4 linked regions of the Homo sapiens genome follow. The protein of the gene in region 4 interacts with the protein of the main gene of each other region in a biochemical or structural test. Each region holds a gene or a part of one and is shown on either strand. Other genes may lie near its edges.

What was found.
Region 1: the proteins of NPPB (region 4) and HDAC4 form a complex in vitro, tested with the Homo sapiens proteins (one study listed by BioGRID).
Region 2: the proteins of NPPB (region 4) and POLI form a complex in vitro, tested with the Homo sapiens proteins (one large-scale study listed by BioGRID).
Region 3: the proteins of NPPB (region 4) and NPR3 form a complex in vitro, tested with the Homo sapiens proteins (4 studies listed by BioGRID, with this or other methods).

The regions. Positions count from the first base shown.
Region 1 is NC_000002.12:239,112,236-239,119,632, reverse strand, and holds part of HDAC4 (histone deacetylase 4), read left to right. Parts: intron 1-4,322; coding exon 4,323-4,580; intron 4,581-7,397. UniProt on the Homo sapiens protein: Responsible for the deacetylation of lysine residues on the N-terminal part of the core histones (H2A, H2B, H3 and H4).
Region 2 is NC_000018.10:54,278,148-54,285,544, forward strand, and holds part of POLI (DNA polymerase iota isoform a (long)), read left to right. Parts: intron 1-2,519; coding exon 2,520-2,756; intron 2,757-4,689; coding exon 4,690-4,868; intron 4,869-5,595; exon of another isoform or gene 5,596-5,668; intron 5,669-5,774; coding exon 5,775-5,866; intron 5,867-7,397. UniProt on the Homo sapiens protein: Error-prone DNA polymerase specifically involved in DNA repair. Plays an important role in translesion synthesis, where the normal high-fidelity DNA polymerases cannot proceed and DNA synthesis stalls. Favors Hoogsteen base-pairing in the active site.
Region 3 is NC_000005.10:32,712,850-32,720,246, forward strand, and holds part of NPR3 (atrial natriuretic peptide receptor 3 isoform 1 precursor), read left to right. Parts: intron 1-7,397. UniProt on the Homo sapiens protein: Receptor for the natriuretic peptide hormones, binding with similar affinities atrial natriuretic peptide NPPA/ANP, brain natriuretic peptide NPPB/BNP, and C-type natriuretic peptide NPPC/CNP.
Region 4 is NC_000001.11:11,854,664-11,861,891, reverse strand, and holds NPPB (natriuretic peptides B preproprotein), read left to right. Parts: upstream 1-2,946; 5' UTR 2,947-3,058; coding exon 3,059-3,190; intron 3,191-3,422; coding exon 3,423-3,678; intron 3,679-4,220; coding exon 4,221-4,237; 3' UTR 4,238-4,428; downstream 4,429-7,228.

The sequences.
Region 1 (7,397 bases), on a different chromosome or scaffold from region 4:
CCCTGAGCTCTGAGCTCCCATCTCTGCGTTCTCAGCCCTGAGCTCCGTTCCCCTTAGCTCCAGTTCCCGCGCCCTCAGCCCTTAGCTCTGGTCCCCACACCCTCAGCTCTGAGCTCTGGTCCCCGCGCCCTCAGCCCTGAGCTCTGGTCCCCGCACCCTTAGCCCTGAGCTCCTGTCCCCATGTCCTCAGCCTGTGGTCTGAGCCCTGTCTCCTCATCCTTAGCCTGTTGCTTTTCCTTCCACACCTGCAGCCTCCAGGACATTCTTGCTTCCTGAAGGCCCGTCCTGGCTGCTGCTCTCCCTCCTCCCGAATCCCTCCTGCTCCTCATCCAGGGCATTGTCCTCAGCGCTCTGTGCCACCTTCTTAGGGAATTGTTCTGCTTTCAGATTCTTTGTTCTTTGCTCTCCCTCCGGTGCACCGAGTGATAAGGGCCCCGCTCTCAAGAAACCTCCCATACACCACTCAGTCAGTCACATCCCGTTACACATCAGACTGCACCGGGCCCTGGGGGAGCTGCAGGAACTGAGCGTATGGGTGCCCTCTTGATGAGTGTCCTGAAAGCCAAGACTTGGATGCCATCTTCGAGGTCCCCTGTGAAACAGCGCTGCTTCACCCGGCGCCCCTGCTGCACCTGGCACCCCTGCTCACAGCGACAGCGGTACCGCCAGGCTCCCTGTTCTCCCTGCCCCCCACAGGGCCTCTCAGGCTCTCAGTGTGCAGGAAGAAGATGGGACTGAGAAACCAGAAGCAATCACAGACCTCAAAATCATCAAGTGAAACTAGTGTTGAAACACATGCTTTTTTTGGTCAACCACTGAGAAACCTGTCAGAGCAAATGGGGACAATGTTGCTAGATTCCTTAGTTGAACTTGTTTCTCCCCGGCTTTGTGAAAGTCTAACCGGAAACAGTCGCATGTATTTACAGCGTACGGCGTGATGATTTGATACTTGTATGCGTTGTGAAATGATCGCCACAAGGGACCTCATCCATGCCCCCTTGGCCTCACGGGGCTCTCATTGTGTCTGTGGTAAGGTCCGTGAATATCGGGGCCACCAAACTGTGCATCAGGTCCCGGAACTTATTCCTCTCCCAACGGCACGCTCACCCGTGGACAGCACGTTCCTGTTCCCGACGCGCGGCCACCCACCGCTGCACTCTCCTCCCTGCGAGTTTGGCTTTCTGAAGCTGAGTTCCTTACGTGCCACGCCGCCTACTGGTTCCCACACTGCCGATGGCCGGCCCGCCCCGACACCCACGCTGCCTGCACCCGGCTGGACCTGGCTCCATTTCCCTGTGCCAGGTTGAAAGCTTTTCTGAAGAAAAGCTGCCTTCGGTTTAGAGATAAACAATGGATCTGCGTTTTCTTCACTCGGCTTTTACTGCCGTACTTTAAACTGCTCTTAGAAAGAAAGTTAAGGGATGATCAATCATAAAACAAACCCCCCGCCCAATCTGAAGTCTCTGATGTTCCACAGTGAGGCACAGCAGGGCTCTGGAGGCTGAAAACTCACCATGTTGTGTGTGTGTGAGTCTGCGTCTCAGCCCTGCTGCGTGGGGACCGGTGTCGTCTGATACGGCTGACCCCTGGGAGCAAGCGGACACTGAGTGCCCACCAACCCGTGCCCCGTAGTTCAGGCTGCTGGAGAGGCCGCCTCGCGTGAGTGTGGAGCAGCATGCAGTGCTCTAAGGGTGTTGAAATGCAAGGGCTCGGGGGATTTCAGGTGTCAGTCTTCCTTGCACACCTCAGTTTCCTTCTGGAAACAGTCGGATGCGGTGCCGAGATCCATCCTCCACGCGCTGTAGCTCCTCTCTCTGCCAGGAACTCGGCTTGTCCCACCGTCCCTCGAATCTGCCCTTCAGGCCGTTCCCCACGGGGACAGATGAATCGAGCATCCGGAGAGACCCCTCGATCTGGGACTTTGGGATTGTGGGACGTTCTTTCACAGTCTGCAGAGGAATGCAGCTCAGTCAGTGCCTTCTTCTGAGAAACTCCCTGTGCGCCCTTCCTAGTCTAACTCCAGACCCCCGCCCTCTCTCCTGAGCTTTTTTTTTTTTTTTTTTTTTTGCCACTTCCCGCATCCCTCTCTCCCCTCTTGTTCTCAACTCCAGCCTTTGCTCTGCTCACATTCATCCCTTTTCTGGCTCCCAGATGTGATGGGGCAGCTCCATTGCCCAAAACGAAGGAGTTGTCCTGGCCACCCTCTCTTGCCTCTCCATATGCAGTCTGTCCCTGGGCCTAGAGCTGCTTCCTTTTTGGTGTCATGGAAACCTGTTCTTTCTCCCATGCCTTAGCCAGACGTGGGGCTGGCCTCACCCTTTCAACCTCTGGCCTGTCTGCAGCAGGGCATGCTTCTAGAACGTGCACCTGCTTGTTTTCAGCCCAGAGTGCCCTTCCCACAGCCCCACCTCGTCTCCGGCACCCTGTGTTCCTGTTCTCTGGCCTTCCACGCTGCAGCCCTGCTGGCTTCCCACAGCTCCCAGAGCGCATTGAGGTCAGCCATACACCCTGTTCCACTTTGCCCCACTACGCGGACACCCCTTGCATTTGCCCCATCCTTTTAGTGAATGTGCGATGAGCAATGCCTGTGCCACGTGGATGAGTCAGAAGTGGTCCCTACCCTCCTGGGAACTGCAGACTGCAGGAAAGATGGATACATGAATGGCAACCACAGAAAAGCCAGAGGACTGGGGTCGGGGGGTGCTGGAGGAGGGCACATTGCCCTATCAGGAAGATCAGCTGACCCTGGAAAAGGTGACATGCACGGGAGGCTCACAAAGCCTCTTGGAGTGGCTGGAGGCCGAGGAAGGAAGGCAAGCAGCGGGCTGGAGGCGAGTGTGGCATGAGGGATGCAGAGCCAGCGGCGTGGTCGGGAGCAGGGTGGCAGGGAGGCTGCAGGGGCAACATGGCCACACGATGGAGGGGCTCTTCAGCAGAGGCAGGATGGCAGAAGAGCACTTGGGGGACATTCAGCAGGGGAGTGACCAGGTCCACTGGCCCGTTTGAAAGCGTGCCCTCACTGCTACATGAAGAAGATTGCAAAGCGTTGACGCTGGAGGTGGGGGCCTCCCAGGAGCCATGCTGTCATCCAGGCAGGAGAGGCCAGGTGGGGCAAAGCAGGAAAGGCAGGAGGTCGAGGCTGGAGAGAAGCAGCACCGTCCAGAGGCGTTTCTCGTGAGCAATGCATGGGCAGTGCTTGGCGGACAGAATTGGGAGCTTGGGGTGTGACTGGACAGCTGGCCAGAGAGAGGTCCCAATAGCCAAGAACAGGTCCTAGAGAAGGGAGAGGCTTGGAAGAAGCTGCCCTGCGTTCGGCATTGGACCTGCTGTGCTGGGGCTCATGGGCACTCTAGGCTAAGCTGAGGCGTCTGGCAGGCCATTAGGTCTGGAGGTAAAGAGCGAGTTTGGGCTCAGCACCACCTTTGGGAGTCGCTGATACTTGGAATCCAGAATGGGGAAATGAGCCGAGGAGCAGGCCCAGGACAAACCAAGACGGAGGAGCAGGCGGGGAGCAGGAGAGGAGCACCTGCCGCCTGTTCCGCACTGAGAGGCCGGGGAGGGAGACCGAGAAGCGTCCGTGAGATCCAACAGGAAAAGAGGTCGGGGGCATCTAGGGAGTCCCACAGGAGGGAGGATGTTGCGGTTCTTGGGGCCCCATAGCGGGGCAGGTCATGGAGCACCCATGGAATCCTGCAAGAAAGGAGGTCATGGTGTCCCTGAGATCCTGCAGAAGGGGAGGCCGTGGCATCCCTGGGATTCAGCAGGAAGGGAGGTCCTGGAGTGTTCCCAGGATCCGGCAGGAGGGAGGTCATGGCACATCGGTGGGATCCTGCAGGAGGGGAGGCCGTGGCGTGTTGGTGGGATTGGGCAGTGAGCATTGTGGACGTGGTTGTCTTCCGCTGAGTGGGTGGTGGGCTGTTTCTCTTAGCAGTTGTGGCTGTGAGGTCAGCATTGGCCTCTCCCCTTCACACTCAAGCTCTCCTCTGCAGACTCTGTTGACACCTGCAGCTTCTTTTCTGTTTCTCGGTGCCTGACACAGAAGAGGTGCTTAGTAAACCCCAAATGTTAGTCAGCCTCCTTCCCTGGGCCAGGTCACCTTGACCCTGGGCTGGGGTCCTACTGGGCATTATTTTCTTAGGCACTCAGGCACCCCAGTGCCTGTTGGGAGATAAAGGTGCCTGCTGGCCTGTGGCAGGGTGATAAGGTGCCCTGAGTCCCTGATTGTCTGCCCCAGAGGGTGGGGTTTGCAGCATCCCTTCTCCTGTCAGATGAGCTCAGAGGACCCAGCTCTCTGTGCTTCATGTGTTACCTCCGCCTTGCAGATCATCCCCAAGCCAAGCGAGCCAGCCCGGCAGCCGGAGAGCCACCCGGAGGAGACGGAGGAGGAGCTCCGTGAGCACCAGGCTCTGCTGGACGAGCCCTACCTGGACCGGCTGCCGGGGCAGAAGGAGGCGCACGCACAGGCCGGCGTGCAGGTGAAGCAGGAGCCCATTGAGAGCGATGAGGAAGAGGCAGAGCCCCCACGGGAGGTGGAGCCGGGCCAGCGCCAGCCCAGTGAGCAGGAGCTGCTCTTCAGACAGGTGACCGCAGGCGGGGAGGGCACCAGAAGGCTGGCACGCACAGCCACCCTCGGTCCCCAGGTGGCATCTTCTGTGGTGATCACGGGGGCTGCAGGGCATCCTTGCGCGGTCACTGTCCAGTGTCTCACCTGTCTTGTCCTGGCCAGTGAGGGAGGTTGATGTGGCTTCCATTTTGTCCCAGCCGTTCCTAGGGATACGAGATGTTTGCCCCCTGTGGGTGGTTACGTAACTGCTTTCCAGCCATGCGCAGGCCCCAGAGAATGGATTTCCTTCCTGTCTGTAGGCTGTAAATGAACACAGAATCCATGTGTTAGTGAGATACAGCATGCTTTTTAAAGAAGTGAAGGAACTAGAGGTATTAATTGATCAAAAAGGCAGGCAGGGCCTGATCAGAAGTCAAGACCTTTTGTGACCCAGAGGTGCTAATGAGCAGCCCTGCAGATCCAGACAGACGGGTGCGATTGTGGCACCCAGAGCCAGTAAGGCTTCAGGGCACTGACACCCAGTAACCAAACTCACAGGAGACTGATGAAGAAGGCCAGTGAATGACTGGTTAATTTCCATTGAAACATTAAACTTCTGAGTCAGCAGAAATACCTAAGGCATTTGGGCAGCCAGCTGGAGCCCCGTATCTGCAGCTAGAGTGCCCTCAGGAAAGTGGCTTCCTCCCTGTAGGCAGGAAGCCAGTCCGAGGAACCACAGCTCTGTAGGATTTGATTCTATCCTCCAGCAGCAGAGCTGCTGCCTCGGCTGCAGGAGCCACTGGCTCGTTCCCTCCCTTCTCTCTGGACTCCATGCCGGCCGTGCCGTTGAGCACCTCCCCAGCTTCCTGACTGCCAGCTGTGTGGCCAGACGCTGCATCTCCACCCCCAGCAGCACCTTGGAAGCCAGGAGCAGGACGCCCTGCAGTAAACTGTTCCCCTTAATTCTCAGCTACAGTTCTTAAATGCTTGCCACTGAATGAATCAGTGTGGGGCCTTGTACCTGGAGCACCTAGACCCAAGCCTGCCACACACGGGATCAGTGCTCAGTGGTCTCCAGAGGCTTCTGGGTCAGGAGCCCTTCTCCACCGAGCTTCCCCCAGTGGCTGGCATTGGGTGCTATTTCTCCTTCTTGTTCAGAGGGGGGCCTGTCTCTAATTTCTGGGCCTTCTTAATTAGCACCCCGGGCACTAAACACTACAAAGCCCAGCAGAACTAACGCTTGGCAAAGACAGAGAGAGAAAGCCCCGGGCCTCTCTGGCACACACACGGTGCTTCATGGTGAACACTCGTCCACAGGTCCTGTCCGACAGGCCCAGGGTGGGGGCCTCTTCCTGTGGTCGGGCCTTGTAAGTTGATGAAGATCTGAAATTCAGTGTGCTATTATTAGGCTGATAAGAAATGGGAAACTATTTACATTAATAATTTTTAGGGCTAGTTTCTCATAGATCAGCCTTTACTTTGAGAAAAAGAGGCTTGTTATATTCCAAGCATGAGATGATTATTAGAAACACTTATTTTCTGTTCTCTCTGGAGAGTAATAGGCAGAACCCCTTATCAGGGAAACGTCGTAGTACACGGAGCAATTTGCCGAGGTAAACATAAGGCGGGGCACCTCCAGCCCGCGTCGGGGAGGATTGCTTATTAACCACTTAACCGCGTGGGGCCCACGGCAATCCCAGCTGAATTTGGTCAGCAGCAGACTGGGGGCCTGTGGGTGCTGGCTCCTGCTCCAGCTCCTGCTGCAGCTCCTCCCACTGTCTCAGGGCTTCCTTCTTCTCTGCTCCCTCCTGGCTCTGATTCCTTTTGTGTGTGTGTGTGTGAGACAGAGTCTCACTCTGTTGCCCAGGCTAGAGTGCAGTGGTGCCATCTCAGCTCACTACAGCCTCCGCCTCCTGGGCTCAAGCAATTATTCTGCCTCAGCCTCCCAAGTAGCTGGGATTACAGGCACCCACCATCACGCCTGGCTAATTTTTTGTTTGTTTGTTTGTTTTGTTTGTTTGTTTTTTTGGAGAGATGGGGTTTCACCATTTTGGCCAGGCTGGTCTCGAACTCCTTACCTCAGGTGATCCACCCGCCTCAGCCTCCCCAAGTGCTGGGATTACAGGCATGAGCCACCACGCCCAGCCTGATTCCTAAAGGCAGGACAGATCGGAGCCTGGCCGGGTAGCTCTGGTTTCCCCCAGTGCTGGCAGCACAGGGCTGGGCTCTGCCTTCATACAGGAGCTGGGATGTAGGTACCTGGTTTTCCATGTTCACAGGATTTGTTCATCAAAACTAAGACAGGATTGGCGCAGAGCTCCCAGCAAGGAGGCGCCCGGCTTTCTTTGTGCCTCGGCCTGGGTGGCAGGTTGCTGTGCTCTCCCTCAGCTGCTGTCTGGGGAGAGGCTTGGCAGCTGTGACCTCATCTCTGCCCTGCTCCCTCCACTCCACTCTGCCTCGTATGGGGGTTTGCACCTCAGCCTGTTCCCAGAATCCCTCAGGGTGTCCCAGGCCCCTGGCTGAGTGCCCCCCCCACACACAGAGCCCAGCCCAGCTCCATCTCATCAGAGAGGCACATCCCCACCAGCAGGCCTGCTCTAGGCCCCAAAGGTCCTGGGTGCCCAGAAGCTGATGGGCTGTTACTGCTTTTAGCCTGCACGAGGGTGTGTGGGATGTGAGACCAGGGAGGGGAGCGGCTGCAGATGAAGCCCAGTTGGCACTTTCAAGTCTGAGAGCCGATGGTGCTTTCTCGCCCAAGTTTGGCATGCAGATTCAATGCTGTTGGTCAGAACTAAGACCCACAAACCCAACAAGGGGGTTGGGCTTCGTGCCCACTCACCGTATGTGTGTGGTA
Region 2 (7,397 bases), on a different chromosome or scaffold from region 4:
TGCATTGGTTCCCATTTTAGAAAGCCATACCCAGCTGGGCACAGTGGAGCGCCCCTGTAGTCCCAGCTGTTTGGGAGACTGAGCTGAGAAGATTGCTTGAACCCAGGAGTTTGAGTCCAGCCTAGGCAACAGAGCAAGATCCCATCTCTTAAGGAAACAAAAAGCCATACCTCTGTAGGTCATTCTTAAGTTGTAAGAGTTGGCTTCTTAATATGCTTTTTGGAATAATTTTTTATTATTCTAAAACAATCTCTAAGCAGAGTTTTCAGGTAGGCTAGATTTGCCTTTGATGTGTCTTTTACATGTTCCCTTCGATTCCCCTTTGATGTGTGTTTTACATGTTCACTTCGATTCCCCTGAGACCCTCATGTTGCTCTCTGAATTCCCAAGTTAGCACTTTTGGAATGTTGTCCAGGGCTATCTGCCATGTGCTAGAATCTTCTCCAAGCTCCTATTTAATCTGTTCAAATAATCTTTGTCAAAGTTAGCAAGAAAGCAGAATGGTTTGTCTCCTTCATATATTGAGATATGAATGACTGATGGTGTTTCCAGTGATATTTACATTTGAAAATAAGCTGCAGTAAGCACCAGTGAATATCTGATTAGGCTTTCAGACATCTTATGACTCTGCTGGTGACTCCCCTATCATACCACATACAAGACAAGGTACTCTGCTGTTGTGTAAGACTTGTCTGACCCTTTTGCTCTTAAGCCTCCCCATGCATTTCCTCTTATCCTCTTTTTTGAGAACTAGACATCGGTCTACAGAATAGTTCTCCACAGAAGAAAAGCAGTAGAACCACAGTTTCTAGAATACATGGAGCTTTTCCTGTATCTTTTGTACTTGTGCTCATTTGTAACTTAAAAGGGCTAACTAGCAAGAATATTTCAAATATATTTCTGTATAATTTTTAAGGCAAACTTGGATTTTATTGGTTAGAGTACATTATAGAGAGCTAGGTTTTATATCCCAAAAAGGGAAATGTGGAATTATTGATTAATTCTTCCTCTTTCATACAGATTTTATTAAAATTTTTTGTAAACCTACAGAAAAGTTGACAGAATAGTACAAAAAATACCCATTATGTCTTTTCTTTTTTTTTTTTTTTTTTTGAGACAGAGTCTCACTCTGTCGCCCAGGCCGGAGTGCAGTGATGTGATCTCGGCTCACTGCAACCTCCACCTCCTGGGTTCAAGCAATTCTCCTGCTTCAGCCTCCCGACTAGCTGGGACTACAGGCATGTGCCACTACACCCGGCTAATTTTTTTATTTTTAGTAGAGACGGGGTTTCACCATGTTGGCCAGGCTGGTCTTGAACTCCTAATCTCAGATGATCCGCTTGCCTTGGCCTCCCAAAGTGCTGGGATTATAGGCATGAGCCACTACTCCTGGCCCATTATGTCCTTTCTTGTAGATAAACCAGTTGTTATCGTTTTGCCACATTTGCTTTCTCTTGTTCTCTCTATGGATTGCTTGGTTGGTTGATGAGCTATTTGGAAGTAAATTGCAGACATCCTGACATTTCATCTCTAAATACTTTTAGCGTTAGTCTCTTTGAGGTTAGGATGGTTTCATGTCATTCCAACACTGTTTTACACCTAAAGCAAATTTATTTTTATATAATTTTCTTACACTTTTCATAAAAGAGCTCTAAAACTGTGTACAGGTCAGAGATTGTTTCTAGCAGCATATACTGCTAGTGCGTGGTTAAGATTTAGATCTTTAAAGTATAATGTTAGCTTTCTTGTTATATAATAATACTTCTATGCCTACTTACGGGTAAATATGAGTAAAAGTTTTGCCAATGTCAGTAGGAATTTTTTTATGAGATCAGTTTTCACAATGTGTTAATTATTAAGCACTCCCACTACACAGTCACTATCACAGGCCCTTGGAATTTGCTTATTGAATTTGTTTACAGTATTCCTATGAAGCATGAAAGAGATTAGTCAAGTGGATAACAGGGTGGCAGTGATCTCTTAGTCCATTTAGTGTTGCTTTAACAGAATACCTGAGACTGGGTAATTTATAAAGAAAAAAAGGTTTATTTGGTTCATGATTCTTGTGGCTGGAAAAGTCAAGGTTAGGCCTCTGGTGAGGGCCTCAGGCTGTTTCCACTCATGGTGGAAGGCAAAAGGGAGCCAGTGTGTGCAGAGATCACATGGTGAGAGAGGAAGCAAGGGCTGGGGGAGGTGCCAGGCTCTTTTAACAACCAGCTGTCTTTGGAACTAATACAGTCAGAAACTTACCCCTGAGGGAGGGCTTTAATCTATTCATGAGGGATCCACCCCTGTGATCCCAACACCTCCCATTTGACCCCACCTCCAACACTGGGGATCAAATTACAACATGAGGTTTGGAGGGGACAAATATCACAACCATACCAGGTGATGATGGTGGTGGTTGTGGTGGTGGTGGTTGTTGGATATAGACTAAGCCCTCTACCTTTTAAAAATTATTTTGTGAAAAAGAAAAAGGTTTTTCTTGTGACTTTGAATGACATTTGTTGTTTTTAAAGCTATAAACCTGCTTGACGTCTTGCACATCAGACTACTTGTTGGATCTCAGATTGCAGCAGAGATGCGGGAAGCCATGTATAATCAGTTGGGGCTCACTGGCTGTGCTGGAGTGGCTTCTAATAAACTGTTGGCAAAATTAGTTTCTGGTGTCTTTAAACCAAATCAACAAACAGTCTTATTACCTGAAAGTTGTCAACATCTTATTCATAGTTTGAATCACATAAAGGAAATACCTGGTAAGACAAATATATTTGAAAAGTACATATACGTCTTATTTTATTTCTTTTAATTTAAAAAATTATAGATACAATGTAATTAATTCTTAGGTAGAGTTGTCTGTGAGTTTGTGTGCATGTGTGTGTGTGTGTATACTTGGTTCCTGGAAAAAACTAAGAAAAACTGTAATGTTTTCTCAAGCAAATTTGGATTAAGAAATATGTGAAGGTACTTTTCTTATTTTATCTACTTTTGTATGGTTAGAATATGGTCATGAAAGTTATAGCCTAGAAACATATGGTCCTTTATTTCCAGTCCCTGGGTCATACTCTTATACTGTACATTGCCTCTAGAGAGGGGAGTTCGTCTTTTACTAACTCTTTTGGGATTACATATAAAATATTAAGGCTACAATGGACTTTCCAAAACATCTAGGCCAAGGTCCTCATTTTAAAGATTAGGAAACTGATTTCCATGAGGAGTTCGGTGACCTATTTAGGTCATGGGGCAAGTTTGTATCTTTGAAGATTAAATACCCAAGTTTTTATAGGCCATCAATATGTTGAACTACATTTCTGTGGTATTGCTAGGGAATAAGATGTTATAAAAGAGTTCTGTGGAAGTGAATTTCTAATACCACTGAAACTTAGATGTCATACTTCACATTTTTAACTGATACTTGCGTGATTCCAAAATGTATTATACACTGCCTTGCCTTCCTTAGTATAGTATAACTATAATTTGAAGTTTTTTGGATGACTTTGGTAGTGCATTCTGAAGAACAATGTCAGGTTGTAATAAACTGAGGACTATATACTGGTGCAAAACATTCTTACTTGGCTTTACTTTCGAGTTCTTGTATCTTTTTTTTTTTTTTTTAACAGGCTTTCTCCTTTCTCACTTATTGCCAAATTGCCAACCTTCTTTTTTTTCTGCTGTGAAAAATCTGTCACTCTACTTTAATAGTTCCCCCTACATAGCCATCTCCTCCAACTTACTGCTTTTACTGTGCAAGAAAACCAGATAACTGTGGAATTACTGTTTTTGAATGAAAAGAATAAGGAGACATTAAATAGCCTGTTTTCTCTTGTGAATAAAGTATGACCGAATTTTAGTGCAAGAACTTTGTGACAGTTTTGCTAGCAAGATTTTTTGTTTGTTTGCTTTCTGGCTCATAGTTGTATTCTGGATGGTAAATGTTAGATATGACTTATGGATAAATGTGTGGTGGTGCGTATAGGAATCAGTTAGGTTACCTAATATGTACACTTAATTTATTTTAATTGCTCTAGTGGCAGCCTTTTTGTATATTAATAATAATCATGATTTCTGAATATTTCTGGAATATTACATAACAGGTGGTAAAATTTTTGTTTTAGTAAGACAGCATTTATTGGCTGTCTCTGTATTCATTTTATTTTACTGCATTTTGTGAGGACTTCAAAGAGGTGCATATAATTCAGGAGCCCTGAGTGGAAGAACAGCAACCTAGTTTGCAATGGGGTTTGATCTTTGCAAAATACAGTAGTCCCCCATTATCTGCAGTTTCACTTTTCACAGTTTCTATTACCTGCAGTCAACTGTGGTCTGAAAATAATAAGATATTTTGAGAGAGAGAGGCAGAGACCACATTCACATAACTTGTATATTGTATATTGTTATAGTTCTGTTTTATTATTATTGTTAATCTCTTACTGTGCCTAATTTATAAATTAAACTTTATCATAGGTATATATGTAATGGGAAAAACAGTACTGTATATATAGGGTTTGATACTGTCCATGGTTTCAGGCATCCACTGAAGGTCTTAGAATGTATCCCCTGTGGATAAGGGGGGACTACTGTATAAATTATAGAACTTAAAGATAAGATTGATATATTTATAATATTTTAATTAGCTTTGTTTTAAGGAGAAAAGCTATTTTAACATTGTATGCATTTCTTTTTATTTAGGTATTGGCTATAAAACTGCCAAATGTCTTGAAGCACTGGGTATCAATAGTGTGCGTGATCTCCAAACCTTTTCACCCAAAATTTTAGAAAAAGAATTAGGAATTTCAGTTGCTCAGCGTATCCAAAAGCTCAGTTTTGGAGAGGATAACTCCCCTGTGATACTCTCAGGACCACCTCAGGTACATGATGATACTTATTTTAATTAAGTACTGGTTATCACATTATTTGAGATAAAGATTTCTAGTTTTAGTACCATGTTCTTACTATTCTAGTTTGCTTAGTATGTGATCCCTTTCCTATTAGAAGGCTGATTTATTATTAATAGATTGGATTAATAAGTATTCTTAAATGGAATCTTAAGCATTGATATTTTGATATCTTAAGTTAGCTACTATGATTGAAGACAGTGCAACTTAATTTTAATAGCCTATAATGCATATATGAGGCAAAATATTTTAATCTGTTAAAAATCTTGTTTTCAGAGTAGTCCAGTGATTTAGCAAATGGGAAAGGTATAATCACCCAGTTAACATTGACTGATTTTTTTGCTATGGGACAAGCACTTTACTGAGTGCTTTAAATATGTTAGTCCATTTAATCTTCACAACAAAGCATCAAGGTAGGTAGTACTGTTGTTTGTCCATTCCTTCTTACTTCTCTTCTTTCCTTCCTTCCTTCCATTCTCTCTCTCTCAAGATGAGGATACCGTACTTTAGAAAGGTTAAATAACTTGTCCAAGGATAAACTTAGATTCAAGTCCTAGGTGATTAAGAACTCTTGCCATAATCATACAATAAAGCTTGGAGTTGGTACTAGAGCTTTAGAGTTTTCATAACTTTGAATTATTTTATATTAACTGTTTTATATTAACTGTTAATACAGTAATATTTTATATTAACTTTCTAGTGAGTACAATAGCTTGCAGATAAAAAACTGTTAATATAAAAGTGAACTAAATGGCTCAAACTAAGGACAAGAGGTAAGTTAGTGAAGAATGTATTGAATATTTATTTGACTGTACACTGATAATAATTAGATATAGTTATTTGAGTTTGTGCTAATCCTTATTTATGCTTCTTTGATAGTCCTTTAGTGAAGAAGATTCATTTAAAAAATGTTCATCTGAAGTTGAAGCTAAAAATAAGATTGAAGAACTACTTGCTAGTCTTTTAAACAGGTGATTTTCAATCCATTTTGCCAAGTCATCCTATGTATTCATTCTATATACGGTATGTGGAAAGAATATTTGATGTTCCATCTTGGAACTGACAGATTATCTGGAGACTAAACAATGTAAAAATAATTTATCATGGGATTTCTCTGCTTTATAAACTGTTGTAAAGATGGTAATAGGGGGTCTTACCTAAATTGAATTCATTGGTCTTAATTCTGTTAACACTGTGGTTATGCTATGGATCTAAAGCTGCAGATAGTTACCTAAAGGGGTTTTATGGATATTTCTAACATTTCTAGACTTATTCTGGTCTTCAGGTGAGAAGAAGAAGTTTTAATTTTTCCCTGTGGCAATTGCAAAGCCTCTGCCCTCAACCTAATAGTTAGTTGCATTTCATTAAGTTAGTACCATGCTAAATACAAATACATGCGAAATACAAAACCCGTGAAATTAACCATTTATCTGTGCCTCTGCTAATAGTTACTTGCATTTCATTAAGAAGAAAAAAATGCAAAGAGGAATAATACTGTCATAATTCTAAAACTCCTGATACAGGAACAACTATATAAATTTGTGATTGTTGAGGATAGGAAATTATTAAAGTAACAGTGATGGAAGAAGCAGAAGAACCCTTGTATCTCTTTTGCCTCAGACTGTAAAATAAAATGGAGTCGAAGGAAAGAATGGCTAGCTGGCGCTGTGTGTGAGTAGGGTGAGTGACTGCAGGTGTGTGCAGGGTTTCTGATCTGTATGTAAAGAGTATCAACTGGGGTTATAAATATATGAGTAGTACAAGATAAACTGAAAAGGAAATTTAATTTTGTGGTGCTCCTTGTCATTATACATGTATTTCTCAATATTCCATATTCCACAGATGAGTATTATCTGTTTTCGTCCCATTTCTTTGTTTCTCCTCTTCTTGTTAGAAATTTCTCAAATTGTGGTTTCAGGGCTCTAACAGTTTAGAGTAGGTGTGCTTCTCTAATGATTCTAGGAGGACTAACTGTATTTAGAGAAAATGGTTTTTGGTTGGTTCTAAGTCTGAGAAAACTGAAGAAGTGAAATTTCCTCCAACTTTGCTGTCGTGTGCAATGTGGCACTCAAATGTCTTGAGCAGAGCCATGCAGCTCATTGTTGGCTGCATGCAGCTGGGGCTGGCTGTATGACTGGCCTCCCGTGATATGACTCAGGCTGGGCCTGCGAGTATGCTAGTGAAACTGGGTCATTTGCTTCAGCTAAATAGAAGACTACCCTGAAATGCCTAACCTTTGGAGACAGTTCTTCACATAGAAAAACCACAAGAAGTATAAGTTTTACAGGTTCTCTTATTTGAAGAGTCAACCCAGAAGTGAGACCAGGTGCTCTAAACCTGTGACATACAAAACCTGTGAAATTAACCATTTGTCTGTATCTCTGCTTCCCGGCTCCTTTTCTCCCACACCACGGGCCCTTATTTCAGTGACTGAATTATAACACCATCTAAGTGACTTGCAAAAAAAAAAATTACAGGAGTGTGTGTGTGTGTGTGTGTGTG
Region 3 (7,397 bases), on a different chromosome or scaffold from region 4:
TGCCAGCGCCGGGCTGGTGATTAGGGGGCGCACTCCCAGTGCCTGGCTCCATCCAGGGTCTGAAGCATCCGAGGCGGAAAGAACTTGTTCCCCAGTCCTTTGCCAGCGTGCGCCCCCACTTAGTGCGGAAGCGTCCGCGGACGCCTCGCAGCGAGGCGTCGCCACTTAGCTCGCCCGCTCTTGGGGTTTCTCTGACTGTTGTTTCCACAGACCCCAGGTTTCTTTTAAAGGCTTGTTGACTCACTCTTCTCATTCCTTTCATTTCCCTTCCAGCCCCTTATAAACGAGCTTCTGTGGTTTCCACCAAAAATGCCCCTGTGTGTCTGAATTCTGGCGACACTCACTTCTCCCAGAGTGTTCTGCAACGCAGTTTCTAATGCGCCCAGAGCTAAGCTTTGCGGGAGTGCCTTTTGAAGAAACGAGCGCTGAACCTTCTTTCCACCTGTCCCCCAAGTTTTCTCCATGGGTCTTTGGGTGTTGGAATAAAACCCAAACTGGACAAAGAGCTCGAGGCTGAGGATGGTGGCTATGGCTTCGGGGAGCGGGGGGACGCGGACGTGTAATCGCCAGTGTGGCCCATTTTACGGTAGGGTAGAATCTGAGGGAAGGCGGACTGAGATGCCGGTATAGCGCCGATCCCTCCTCCCTCTAGTCAGGGATTAGGAGCACTGCGATGAGGGAATCCCGTCTCTGCTCCCCCTTGGCGCTCACGCGCCTGGAATGTGAGTGGTGCAATCCCGGCAAAGCTCCCCGAGACCCCAGTGCCACGCGGATGAGACCGAAGGGGAGCGGAGTTGAGCCAGGCGCCGGGCTAGTCCACAACTTGGCATGGCCGAGCACCTGGGCGCTGGTCGTAGGGGACAGCGCAACCTGAGGCCGAAGGCCCCAGGAACAGGTGAGAGTGGACAGAGAAGCCATCGATAATGGCGCTGCTGTCACCGCCTTGCCATCTTGGCCACCTCGGACTCACCCTTTAGAGCAAAGAGGCGAGAGGTGTTTGACAGTGGGAATGCATGGCCAAATTTTGAGCTCTGGAACTCCAGGCTGTCTGTGCCGAATTCCTACCAGCCAAGCAGGCGGGGCGCAGGCTTTGCCGATTATGAAAAAGGGCACGTGTGTCCAACGGCTGCGGACTTGCCACGCCTGCCACGCCTCGGCAAGGAACCCACATCTACACTCCCAAGTCCCAGTCGCCAGGTTACTGCAGCCTCCACGGGGGTGTCTGCGCCCCGGGCTGCTAAGGCTCCCGGAACCTGCTTCTCCAGTTCTCGGCTTTCGAGGGCTAGGCGCTAGAAGTCAGAGACTTCCCAAGGCCGGCTGGGACTGGGGGTGTGTCCCCCTATGGGCGAGATCCGCGGTTTGCTGACTCGTCCGTAATGTCACTACCCTGTAGATCCCAATGTCAGCGGCTGCCCCGGCGCACGTGGCCTGGGATACAAAACCAAGGGCATGTGTGAGACCAGAGGAGGGCAGATCGCGGCCCCGGGGCCCCTCGCCCTCACAGTGGTGGCTGAGGCCTGGGGCTGGGCGGACAGCAGTGCCCTGGTGGGCCTGGGGACTGGTGCGCCCCGGGCTTCTGAGGACTAGGGCTGCAGTCGGCTGTAAGAATTATTTTTTAATTCCAAAAGCCTCATAGACGTTCCGAAGTCTCTTTGCTTTTTTTTTTTTTTTCCAAGTTTGCATTGAGGGGTGAAAGTTTGCTTAACTGACCTGTATATTTTACAAGTGATAAGGTTAGGATTTTACAATTCTTACTCTAAAAAGTATTTCCAACAGTGACCTGGCAGATATTTAGAAATAGGAAACAAAACAGTTTCTCCTCTAATCGTCCTCCAATCGCCTCTAATCATCCTTCCACCCCGAAATTCCTTACACTCGAGAGAAAAAGTTACTTGATAACAAAGCTCTCTTAGGGGACCTTTTAAAAATACATTGAAGTAACACAGTTACTTTACCGTAAGCACTTAATGTATTAAATAGGGCTTCGGTACATGATTGCAGTGAAGTTTCTGGCTCAGTCACCGGCTGGGGGATCTTGGACTGCTATGAAACCTCTGTACCTCGAGCTCCTTAGGTAAAGTGGGGGTAGTCAGAGCACCCACGTCTTTGGGAAACTGTGAGGGTTACAGAAGCTAACCCAGGAATGCCTGGGAGCACTGCCAGAAGAATATGAAGTGCTCAATAAATGTGCGGTTTCATTGTAGTTATTATTTTATATATGATGATAATCACCTTTACCCCAAGGGTGAGGCCATGCCATGGGAAAGAACCCTGGGCTGAGATGCAGATGCCTCTGGATTTGGCTGGCCTCCTTATGTGAGTTTTCTTCTCTGTGAAACAATGTGTGGGGTGAGAATCAGGCCTCTTCAAACTGATATTCTCACCCAAGTGTGAAAATGCAACTGACAGTATTTTTGCTTTTGAAAATTCCCTATTAAGTATTATGAATTAAAGTAGAGAGAGTTCCTCCCTCTTTTGGTGAGAACATTGGTATTACTTTTTTTTTGGACTTAAGTTTCTCTTTAAAACCAAATCACAAATGTTTGAACAAGTAAAAAACTGACCGTGCCAGCATCTCAAATAATAATGCGACTAAAATTTCACATGGCATACTGTAGAAAGAAAAACAGGGGCATCAATTATTCCTTCATTTTAAGGATTTACCATCTAAGTCAATAATTTAAAATCTTTTTTTTTCCTGTCATGTCTTTCGCTAATGCCACTAAAATAAACAGACCTGAGCCTATATTATTTTTAAAAACAATTATCTTTATTTAAAATAGATTCACTTACACAGCCAGCTACTGCCCTCAATATTCCACACACTTAACAATAAATTTAGTTTTAAAAAGACAGGCTTAGAAATAATTTTTTCAAGCAATACAAGCCAGTAGTTGTTTTGTCGATGCACTTTATATGATGCAGAACTAGAAGTATCCTAACGCAAATGTTTTTATGTGAAGAACTGTAGTTTTATCCTTTTAGTTATTAGTATGTCATTAATCTGGGCCTGCATAATGACTGTACAACATTATACAGTCTGTAGAGATAGAGATAACAGTATTTAATCAATACAAGAAACATTTATTTTTAGAATTAGTCTGGGGTAAATGACCGAGTGGTCAATCAGCAGCATTTTTAAGGAAAGAACCCATGATAAGTGTAAAATAACTAACACAGCAGGGGAAAAAAGGAGCTTTGTAGGCTGCACTGTGGAAATTCTAAAGGCCTTTGGAGTAGATGGAGCTTTATGAACAACAGAAATAAAGATGCAATCTCCATTTTGCAAACAATATCCATTGCTATGGAGTGTAGAAACAGCCAGAGAGAAATCTTTTTTGAAAAAAGTTAGATTTACATTTTACCAAAATTTAGTTCTACAGCTATAGAAAGTGAGAAAACTACACAAGGTTTATGAGGAGAAAAAGGTTCCTGTCTCCTACTCTCCATTTTTCACTCTCAATTCTTGTTAGCTCTTCCTGTAGGTATTGACCTTCATATCTCTTAATAACATGCTACTTTTTTTTTTTTCAGTTTTAGGTCTTATCTGTTGGAATCCCAGTGGAAGAAAATTCTCTTCTTGATCATTCTACTGCCTGTTAACCACACATGCAAGCTTTCTTTCCAGTCATCTTTCCAATATGGTTGTGCCAAAATTTTTCTCAGTAGGCTGAGGCAGGAGGATTGCTTGAGTCCAAGAGTTTGAGGCTATGGATTGCCCTATTTGAATAGCCACTGCATTCCAGCCTGGGCAACATAGCTAGACCCCATCTCTTACACAATATTTTTTAGTTAGTTCAGTATTCAGTATAAATATTATCATTACTTTCTAAATGATATTTAAGGTTAAGTCACATAGGCTTCTATGTTGACATTTCCTTTTTTCCCCCTACCTATTTTCCTTGGAGTTAAAACAGTCTGTTTTTGTTTATTTGCTTAATTTCCTATGGATTTATAATTAAATAATCTTCTAATTCTTTATTTTAAATCTCCTGAGTGTTTTTTTATTATTATACTTTAAGTTCTAGGGTACATGTGCACAACGTGCAGGTTTGATACATAGGTATACATGTGCCATGTTGGTTTGCTGTACCCATCAAGTCATCATTTACATTGGGTATTTCTCCTAATGCTATCCATCCCCCAACCCCCCCACCCCCCACCCCCTGACAGGCCCCGGTGTGTGATGTTTCCCGCCCTGTGTCCAAGTGATCTCATTGTTCAGTTCCCACCTATGAGTGAGAACATGTGGTTTTTGGTTTTCTGTCCTTGCGATAGTTTGCTGAGAATGATGGTTTCCAGCTTCATCCATTTCCCTGCAAAGGACATGAACTCAGCCTTTTTGTGGCTGCATAGTATTCCATGATGTATATGTGCCACATTTTCTTAATCCAGTCTGTCACTGATGGACATTTGAGTTGGTTCCAAGTCTTTCCTATTGTGAATAGTGCCGCAATAAATATACGTGTGCATGTGTCTTTATAGTAGCATGATTTATAATCCTTTGGGTATATACCCAGTAATGGGATTGCTGGGTCAAATGAGAATTCTAGTTCTAGATCCTTGAGGAATTGCCACACTGTCTTCCACAATGGTTGAACTATAATTTACACTCCCACCAACAGTGTAAAAGTGTTCCTATTTCTCCACATCCTCTCCAGCATCTGTTGTTTCCTGACTTTTTAATGATTGCCATTCTAACTGGCATGAGATGGTATCTCATTGTGTTTTTGATTTGTATTTCTCTGATGACCAGTGATGATGAGCATTTTTTCATGTGTCTGTTGGCTGCATAAATGTCTTCCTTTGAGAAGTGTCTGTTCATATCCTTTGCCTACTTTCTGATGGGATTGTTTGTTTTTTTCTTGCAAATTTGTTTGAGTTCTTTGTAGATTCTGGATATTAACTCTTTGTCAGATGGGTAGATTGCAAAAATTTTCTCCCATTCTCTAGGTTGCCTGTTCACTCTGATGGTAGTTTCTTTTGCTGTGCAGAAGCTCTTTAGTTTAATTAGGTCCCATTTATCTATTTTGGCTTTTGTTGCCATTGCCTTTGGTGTTTCAGTCATGAAGTCCTTGCCCATGCCTACGTCCTGAAAGGTATTGCCTAAGTCTTCTTCTAGGGTTTTTTATGGTTTTAGGTTTAACATTTAAGTCTTTAATCCATCTTGAATTAATTTTTGTATAAGGTGTAAGAAAGGGATCTAGTTTCAGCTTTCTACTTATGGCTAGTCAATTTTCCCAGCACCATTTATTAAATAGGGAATTCTTTCCCCATTTCTCATTTCATCAGATGGTTGTAGATGTGTGGCATTGTTTCTGAGGCCTCTGTTCTGTTCCATTGGTCTATATATTTGTTTTGGTACTGGTGCCATGCTGTTTTGGTTACTGTAGCCTTGTAGTATAGTTTGAAGTCAGGTAGCATGATGCCTATAACTTTGTTCTTTATGCTTAGGATTGTCTTGGCAATGCCAGCTCTTTTTTGGTTCCATATGAACTTTAAAGTAGTTTTTTCCAATTCTGTGAAGAAAGTCATTTGTAGCTTGATGGGGATGGCATTGAATCTATAAATTACTTTGGGCAATATGGCCATTTTCATGATATTGATTCTTCCTATCCATGAGCATGGAATATTCTTTCATTTGTTTGTGTCCTATTTTATTTTATTTTATTTTCATTGAGCAGTGGTTTGTAGTTGCTGAAGAGGTCCTTCACATCCCTTGTAAGTTGGATTCCTAGGTATTTTATTCTCTTTGTAGAAATTGTGAATGGGAGTTCACTTATGATTTGGCTCTCTGTTTGTCTGTTAATGTTGTATAGGAATGCTTGTGATTTTTGCACATTGATTTTGTATCCTGAGACTTTGCTGAAGTTGCTTATCAGCTTAAGGAGATTTTGGGCTGAGACAATGGGGTTTTCTAAATATACAGTCATGTCATCTGCAAACAGGGACAATTTGATTTCCTCATTTCCTAATTGAATACCCTTTATTTCTTTCTCCTGCCTGATTGCCCTGGCCAGAACTTCCAACACTATGTTGAATAGGAGTGGTGAGAGAGGGCATCCTTGTCTTGTGCCAGTTTTCAAAGGGAAAAACTGCTTCCAGTTTTTGCCCATTCAGTATGCTATTGGCTATGGGTTTGTCATAAATAGCTCTTAGTATTTTGAGATACATTCCATCAATACCTAGTTTATTGAGAGTTTTTAGCATGAAAGGCTGTTGAATTTTATCGAAGGCCTTTTCTGCATCTATTGAGATAATCATGCAGTTTTTGTTGTTGGTTCTGTTTTTGTGATCAATTACATTTATTGATTTGCGTATGTTGAACCTGCCTTGCATCCCAGTTATTTTCTAGGTATTTTGCACAATTGCCACTCTGGGTTCTTCAACATCTTCCTGGGACTTCCATCACCTCTCTGTTGAGCTAGATCCCTGTGTGTTTCTCTTTTTTCATTATGTTTTTGTTTTGTTGGACCACATCCTCCAAGAGCTTTCTGAGAAAGGATGAATAAGGCCTAAATTTTGAGAGGTTTTGTGATTGAAAAATTTTCATCATACCTTTACACATAGTTATAGTATTCTAGGTTGGAAATAATTTTCCCTCGAATTGTGACAGTATTGCTTTACTGTCTTCTAAATTCTAACATTGCTATTAGAAAGCTGGAATCAGTTTGGATTCTGAACTTATAGTTCATTGCTTTGCTTTCCTGGAAATTTTTAGAATGTTCTCCTCTTCCCTGTGTACTCAATAGGCCTCTTTTATCCAGAAACTCACATCTTTTAATTCTGGGAATACTTCTTAAGTTATTTCTGTGATAATTGTATCCTTTTCATTTTCTCTATTTCCTATTTCTAGGTTTCTTTCTTATTTGGATGCTAGACCTCTTGGATTGATCTTCTACTTTTCTTACCTTCTATTTACCACCTATGTTGTTGTTGTTTTTTTTTTTTTGTAATTCATCTTGTTTGGATATTTCCTTGGCCACTTTTAAAGTTACTGTTGAGTTTTTCATTTTTGGTATCACATTTTCAGTGTGCAGGACATGGCATACTCTGCTTTGCTTCCATGCAGTGATATCCCTCTTTTCCTTCTAAATTTGTAATTAACTGGAAGATGGGTACAGTAACCAGATGGAGAATATGAATATATCCTTATTATTGATAAAAGCAGTTGAACATGGATTTAGATCTATTTCCAAAAGGGCCTGCTTGCTATTACTTCCTCCCAGAATTAGGCAGGAATATCTATTAAATCACATATAGTGCCATTTAGCTGCAAATCTCCCCTGCTAACTCTTGACCATGTGACAAAAGAAGCCCATGATGTGTGCTTTCTGCAAACAGCCACAACCCAAAGAAGAGGGAAGAAAAGACTGAGCCAGCATACTCAGTTTTAG
Region 4 (7,228 bases):
ATTTTGTCCCTCTGACCTTGATCCTCTGGCTTCCCTCTTATAAGGACCCTTGTGATGACATTGAGCCTTCCTGAATAATCCAGGAGAATCTCTCCACCTTGAGGTCCTTAACTTAACCACACCTGCAAAGTCCTTTTTACCATGTAAAGTAGTATATTCGCAGATTCTGGGGATTAGAATATGGACATCTTTTGGGGACTATTATTCAGCTTACCACAGACATCATCAAATTTAATCCTTGTACATTAATGCTCCAACAGAGGTGTTATGATTAGCTTCATTAAATAGACTTGGAAAGCACATAGCATATGACAGGCCCTCGATAAATGTTGATGGGGCTGATCTGGTGTGAGAGTTAGTTGACAACATATCCTCCTCCCTGGACAGCAGGCCTTGGAGGATGTGTCTAGTTCTGTGTCTTCCTCAAGTCTTCTTCCACAGTCCCCTCCACTGGGGACAGATAGAAACTCTGTCAGAGTGTATGACACTTAGACACTTAATTGTCTCACTTGGGGTCACTTTGTCTCCCCAGTGAGATCACAATCTCCTTCAGTGTAAAGACCAACTCTCATGTACTACTAATTATTTGGCCCTTTATACAGTGCCACGGGCTTTTGCAGATATTATTTTTTTCCTTTTAGTCCTTGCAAGGACTGTCCATTTTGCCGAAGAGCAAAGTGAGGCTCTGGCGAGATGCAGAGTCAGTTTTTGATGGTGCTGGTTGATGAATCCTGCCTTGCTCTGAACCCTTTATCTCATGGTACTCAGCATGAGGGGCTTTCTGCACCCTCAGCAGCCTCTCGCCCACTGACTCCCCTCTGCACTTGGCTGAATTTTCTTACCTCTTTAGCTTCCTCTTAGCCTTTTGATACTCTTACTGTGGCATGCTCATGTGCACGCACACACACACACACACACACACACACACACACAAAACTACCCCAGCCCCCCAGAACATTTCCAGCACTGGTGTCTTTACACAGCCCTTACCCACCCACCTCCATTTATATTTCATCTGCAAAATGCTCATCTGAGCCACTTCCCATTCTTTCTCCTGCACACACAGTCACCACTAGAATTGCACATCCCCCACAGCACAGCTCCCAGAGCCTTCATAGATGACACGGGATTCACCTAAGCTTGCTTTTTGTAGAAACACCTTGTGATCACCCTGGCAGTGATTATGAGCTTCAGGTCTGGAATCAGACTGCTGGCTAGACTAATCAGACTGGTTAGAATCCAGGATTTATCATGTGTCAATTGTGTGACTTTTGGAAAGTAGATTAATTCATGAACACCATTTCCTCCTCTGAAGTGAGGAATAATAACCGTGCTTTTCTCACCTCAGGGGCAGATGCTATTTTTTAGGCAAGATCTGCTTAGAGGTCCCAGTTTCTTATTGCTGCCCTTCTCTGCTGTAACTCTTCTCCCCTCATAGACAGCTCCACTCCTCCAGCCTGCTGCTTGTTGACACCAATTCTCTGGAAGGGGAGTGACATCAGTCATATATGCTTTAGGGGGGTATTTAAGCTGCTATGACTCTTCTCAGGGGCATTTCTCTCCAAAGTCTCACTTCTAATCACCAGGCCACCTGCTAATGATAATTAGATCATGGGTGGTCAGATGAAGGAGGCACTGGGAGAGGGGAAATCCCCATATCTCTGGTATCCCAGCAAATAGATAACCATCATTCCAGCCATCCTTTTGTTTTCTTTCTTTCTTTCTTTCTTTCTTTCCTTCTTTCTTTCTTTCTTTTTTCGCTCTCTGTCAACCAGGCTGGAGTGCAGTGGCGTGATCTCAGCTCACTGCAACCTCCACCTCCTGGGTTCAAGTGATTCTCCTTCCTCAGCCTCCCGAGTAGCTGGGACTACAGGCGCCTGCCACCATGCCCAGCTAATTTTTGGTAATTTTAGTAGAGACGGGGTTTCACCGTGGTCTCGATCTCCTGACCTCGTGATCCGACCGCCTCGGCCTCTCAAAGTGCTGGGATTACAGGCGTGAACCACCATGCCCAGCCTATCCTTTTGTTTTCCATCCTGTGTTGGCTTGGTGGGGGAGAGGAGGTGTTGACACGTGGAGGACACACATATAAGGCATTCTTGGGTGACTTCGTCATCACTGGACCCTATCTCTCAAAATTCCAGCGAAATCTGCTCTTCCCTTTAAGGAGTGAAAGAAGGGTCAGCATTCCAGAAGTTCCTGGTCATACCCAGGCTTTTAATGAATTGCCACTGGGGAATCAGCATCCCGTTGCTGTAAGGACTATAAGATGGCGGATTGTGAGAGCATAGGGAAAGGTCTCGGAGGTCTCTTGTCCTTGCTCCACGCAGGTCTTTCTGGCCTGAAAATCCCGTTGAAGAGAGCAGCTCTTGAGAGTTTGCTCCAAGTTCCCTCGGGGTGATCAGCACCACGGACAGCGGCCAGGGCGCCCCCGAGGACCCGCAGGCAGGCAGGGTGCACAGCGGCGAGCAGGTGCTGCGCTACGTGCGGGCCAGGGAACTCGCGCGGGGAGGGGAGAGGCGCCGCGGGTGGCGGGGTCTTGGCCGGGGCTGTTTTCGCTGTGAGTCACCCCGTGCTCCCCGCGCTCACGTCGGTCCTCGGAAAGCCGGGGTCCTCCCTGCCTTTTCCAGCAACGGTGGGGTGGGGAGGCAGGAAGAAAGCGCCAACCTAGGACACCTGGACATTTGCAGGAAAGGAAGAAGCGGGAGACGGGGACTTGTCTGTGTCTCCAGCGCGTTCCTGCCCCCCGGCCCGACCCGGCCCATTTCTATACAAGGTCGGCTCTGCCCGGTCTCCACCTCCCACGTCGCAGGCGCGGAGGGGCTCATTCCCGGGCCCTGATCTCAGAGGCCCGGAATGTGGCTGATAAATCAGAGATAACCCTGCATGGCAGGGCAGGCCCGACACTCAGCTCCAGGATAAAAGGCCACGGTGTCCCGAGGAGCCAGGAGGAGCACCCCGCAGGCTGAGGGCAGGTGGGAAGCAAACCCGGACGCATCGCAGCAGCAGCAGCAGCAGCAGAAGCAGCAGCAGCAGCCTCCGCAGTCCCTCCAGAGACATGGATCCCCAGACAGCACCTTCCCGGGCGCTCCTGCTCCTGCTCTTCTTGCATCTGGCTTTCCTGGGAGGTCGTTCCCACCCGCTGGGCAGCCCCGGTTCAGCCTCGGACTTGGAAACGTCCGGGTTACAGGTGAGAGCGGAGGGCAGCTCAGGGGGATTGGACAGCAGCAATGAAAGGGTCCTCACCTGCTGTCCCAAGAGGCCCTCATCTTTCCTTTGGAATTAGTGATAAAGGAATCAGAAAATGGAGAGACTGGGTGCCCTGACCCTGTACCCAAGGCAGTCGGTTCACTTGGGTGCCATGAAGGGCTGGTGAGCCCAGGGGTGGGTCCCTGAGGCTTGGACGCCCCCATTCATTGCAGGAGCAGCGCAACCATTTGCAGGGCAAACTGTCGGAGCTGCAGGTGGAGCAGACATCCCTGGAGCCCCTCCAGGAGAGCCCCCGTCCCACAGGTGTCTGGAAGTCCCGGGAGGTAGCCACCGAGGGCATCCGTGGGCACCGCAAAATGGTCCTCTACACCCTGCGGGCACCACGAAGCCCCAAGATGGTGCAAGGGTCTGGCTGCTTTGGGAGGAAGATGGACCGGATCAGCTCCTCCAGTGGCCTGGGCTGCAAAGGTAAGCACCCCCTGCCACCCCGGCCGCCTTCCCCCATTCCAGTGTGTGACACTGTTAGAGTCACTTTGGGGTTTGTTGTCTCTGGGAACCACACTCTTTGAGAAAAGGTCACCTGGACATCGCTTCCTCTTGTTAACAGCCTTCAGGGCCAAGGGGTGCCTTTGTGGAATTAGTAAATGTGGGCTTATTTCATTACCATGCCCACAATACCTTCTCCCCACCTCCTACTTCTTATCAAAGGGGCAGAATCTCCTTTGGGGGTCTGTTTATCATTTGGCAGCCCCCCAGTGGTGCAGAAAGAGAACCAAACATTTCCTCCTGGTTTCCTCTAAACTGTCTATAGTCTCAAAGGCAGAGAGCAGGATCACCAGAGCAATGATAATCCCCAATTTACAGATGAGGAAACTGAGGCTCAGAGAGTTGCATTAAGCCTCAAACGTCTGATGACTAACAGGGTGGTGGGTGGCACACGATGAGGTAAGCTCAGCCCCTGCCTCCATCTCCCACCCTAACCATCATCACCCTCTCTCTTTCCCTGACAGTGCTGAGGCGGCATTAAGAGGAAGTCCTGGCTGCAGACACCTGCTTCTGATTCCACAAGGGGCTTTTTCCTCAACCCTGTGGCCGCCTTTGAAGTGACTCATTTTTTTAATGTATTTATGTATTTATTTGATTGTTTTATATAAGATGGTTTCTTACCTTTGAGCACAAAATTTCCACGGTGAAATAAAGTCAACATTATAAGCTTTATCTTTTGAAACTGATTTGTCTTGGCGCATTAAAAATAATCCCTCATTTCAAAGAAACCAACCCAACTAAAACCACAAAGCCCTGTGATCTCAAGGCATCTTCATGGTGGGATGAGGATGTGGCCTCAGAGGTAGCAGGCTTTCTTTTCTTTCAGAGTTTTTAATGCTCTGAAATGTTATTGAATATCTCAAGCACTTGAGGCACTTGGGAGAAACTGCTTTTCAAAGCAGGGCAGGATACGTGTGCAACCTGAGGGCACGTATCCAGCCGTTTTCTCCACTCGTCCTTGCTCTGCCTGGAATTCCACCATTAAAGCACTCTCCCTGGGGATTATTGCTTTCAGGTCTCAGCTAAAATGTCAACGACTGGGGGCAGTGTGTGTGGGTGTGGCTCATCTACATTCCCATACCGGGGTGAGCCCTCCATCCTGCCCCAAATATCAGCTTTGAAACTCCAATTCCTGGGGTCATCCTGCAAAGGAGCCTTCAAAACTCCAACCCACAAAGTGAGAGGGGTCTGGCAATCAGCCCAGCTTTCCAGGGTGCCCCTCCCCTGGGGCTGCATCATCTCTTCTCTTTGCCTTAACCAGTGGGGAGGCTGTCTCTCCTATGGGTCCCCTTCCCACACACCCTGCAATCCAGGCCTCCGCAGTGCTGAGTTCCTCTCCTTTCAGATTCCTGGGAAGGGCCTCATGTCATTCGCTTTCTCACAATGCCATTTATAATTCCAGCTCAGCTGAGGGGTAAGGCACCATGAGGTCCACTATTATTATGTCCATTTTCCAAATGGGAAAACTGAGACCCGGGAAAACTGAGACCCTGGAAAACCAAGCGTCCTATCCAAGAGCACACAGCGACTAAGCGCTGGTGTGGGAACTGAGCGGAGATCCAGGTGACTCTTGAGCCTGTGCTCTCTGACTCTTGAGCCCCACACTCCTGCCCTTGAACTTCACTCTCAAGTCTTTTCTGATGTTCTCATCAGATGTTTCTTTGAATGAGAGTGACCTAGAGGGTGGAACTTTGTGTTATTTATCATTTTCACCCAGTGTGCATCTGAGGATTTATGGATATCTAATGACATCAATTAAGATTGTTTAGACTGGGTGCGGTGGCTCACACCTGTAATCCCAGCACTTTGGAAGGCCGAGGCCAGAGGATCACCTGAGGTCAGGAGTTCGAGACCAGCCTGGCCAACATGGTGAAATCCCCTTTCTACTAAAAATACAAAAATTAGCCGGGCATGGTGGTGTGTGCCTGTAATTCCAGCTATTCAGGAGGCTGAGGCAGGGGAATCGCTTGAATCTGAGAGGTGGAGGTTGCAGTGAGCTAAGATTGCACCACTGCATTCCAGCCTGGGTAACAAGAGTGAAACTCCATAATCTCAAAAAAAAAAAATTGTTCAAAAACGAGGTTTTAGGCCAGGGACAGTGGCTCACACTGTAATCCCAGCACTTTGAAAGGCCGAGGCAGAAGGACGGCTTGAGCCCAGGAGTTCAAGACCAACCTGGGCAACATAATGGGACCCCCATATCTTCAAGAAATGAAAATGAAAAAAATTATCTGGGTGTAGTGGTGCATGCCTGTGGTCCCAGCTACTCAGGAGGCTGAGGTGGGAGGATCGCTTAAGCCTGGAAGCGGGGAGGCTGCAGTGAGCTGTGATTGTGCCACTGTACTCCAGCTTGGGTGACAGAGGGAGACCCCATCTCAAAAAACAAACGAACAAAAAAAGAGAATAAAAGAAATAAAAAAGAGGTTTTAGGGGCAGCTTATTTTTCCACCAACTGTGAGTCATGTCTAATGCTTCCAAACCGGGGAGAGCAATGAGTAATTAGAATAGTTAATATTCATAAAGGCCTCATTCATGTACCAGGCACAGTCATATAGACCTCACAACAATGAAGGAGTTAAATTTCTTTTTTTTTTTTTTTTTGAGACAGGTCTCACTCTGTCATCCAGGTTGAAGTGCAGCGGTGCAATCTCGGCTCACTGCAACCTCTGACTCCCGGGTTCAAGCGATTCTCTCGCCTCAACCTCCTGAGTAGCTGGGAGTACAGACATGCACCACCACCCTCAGCTAATTTTTGTATTTTTTGTAGAGATGGGGTTTCATCATGTTGGCCAGGCTGGTCTCGAACTCCTGGCCTCAAGTGATCCACCCGCCTCGGCCTCCCAAAGTGCTGGGATTACAGGCTTGAGCCACTGCTCCTGGCCTGGAGTTAAAACTCTTACATCCCTCTTTTTACAGATGGGGAAACCAAGGCACAGAGATATATAACTTGTCAATGTCATGTAGTTAGCAAGTGGCAGAGCCAAGATTCGAGGACCCGTACCCCTAACCACTGTCCCACCCAGCTTTTTCCAAGCCAGTGAATTAGGCTTGTGGGTGGGATGGAGGTCCCCCTCCTGGTGGCATCACTCAGTTCAACATCTGGGCCACTGCCTGCTGGTGGCCTTTCCCCTCTGCTCAGGTGATGAGGACACACCCCTCCCAAAATACTCCCCAAACCCAGCCAGCACTTTCAAATTCCTGCAGATGAGTCTGGCTCATCCATAAATGGGGCTCAGATGGTGGAGGCTGTACACACCATACATCCTGTTACTTGGGTCCTTTCCCTAAGCAAGGAAAGAGGACCCCAAAGTGACCTGCGAAGGAGCCAAATGTGACAGTTGGAGCTGGGTAGCGGTAGCGGGCCGCCTGCTGTACCCAGTGAGTGACATCTCATCAAGCTCTCCACGTGGTTGGTGTTTGCAGGCAGCTTTGTGGTACACACACCGCATGTAGATGCCCTTAAAACCAGCCC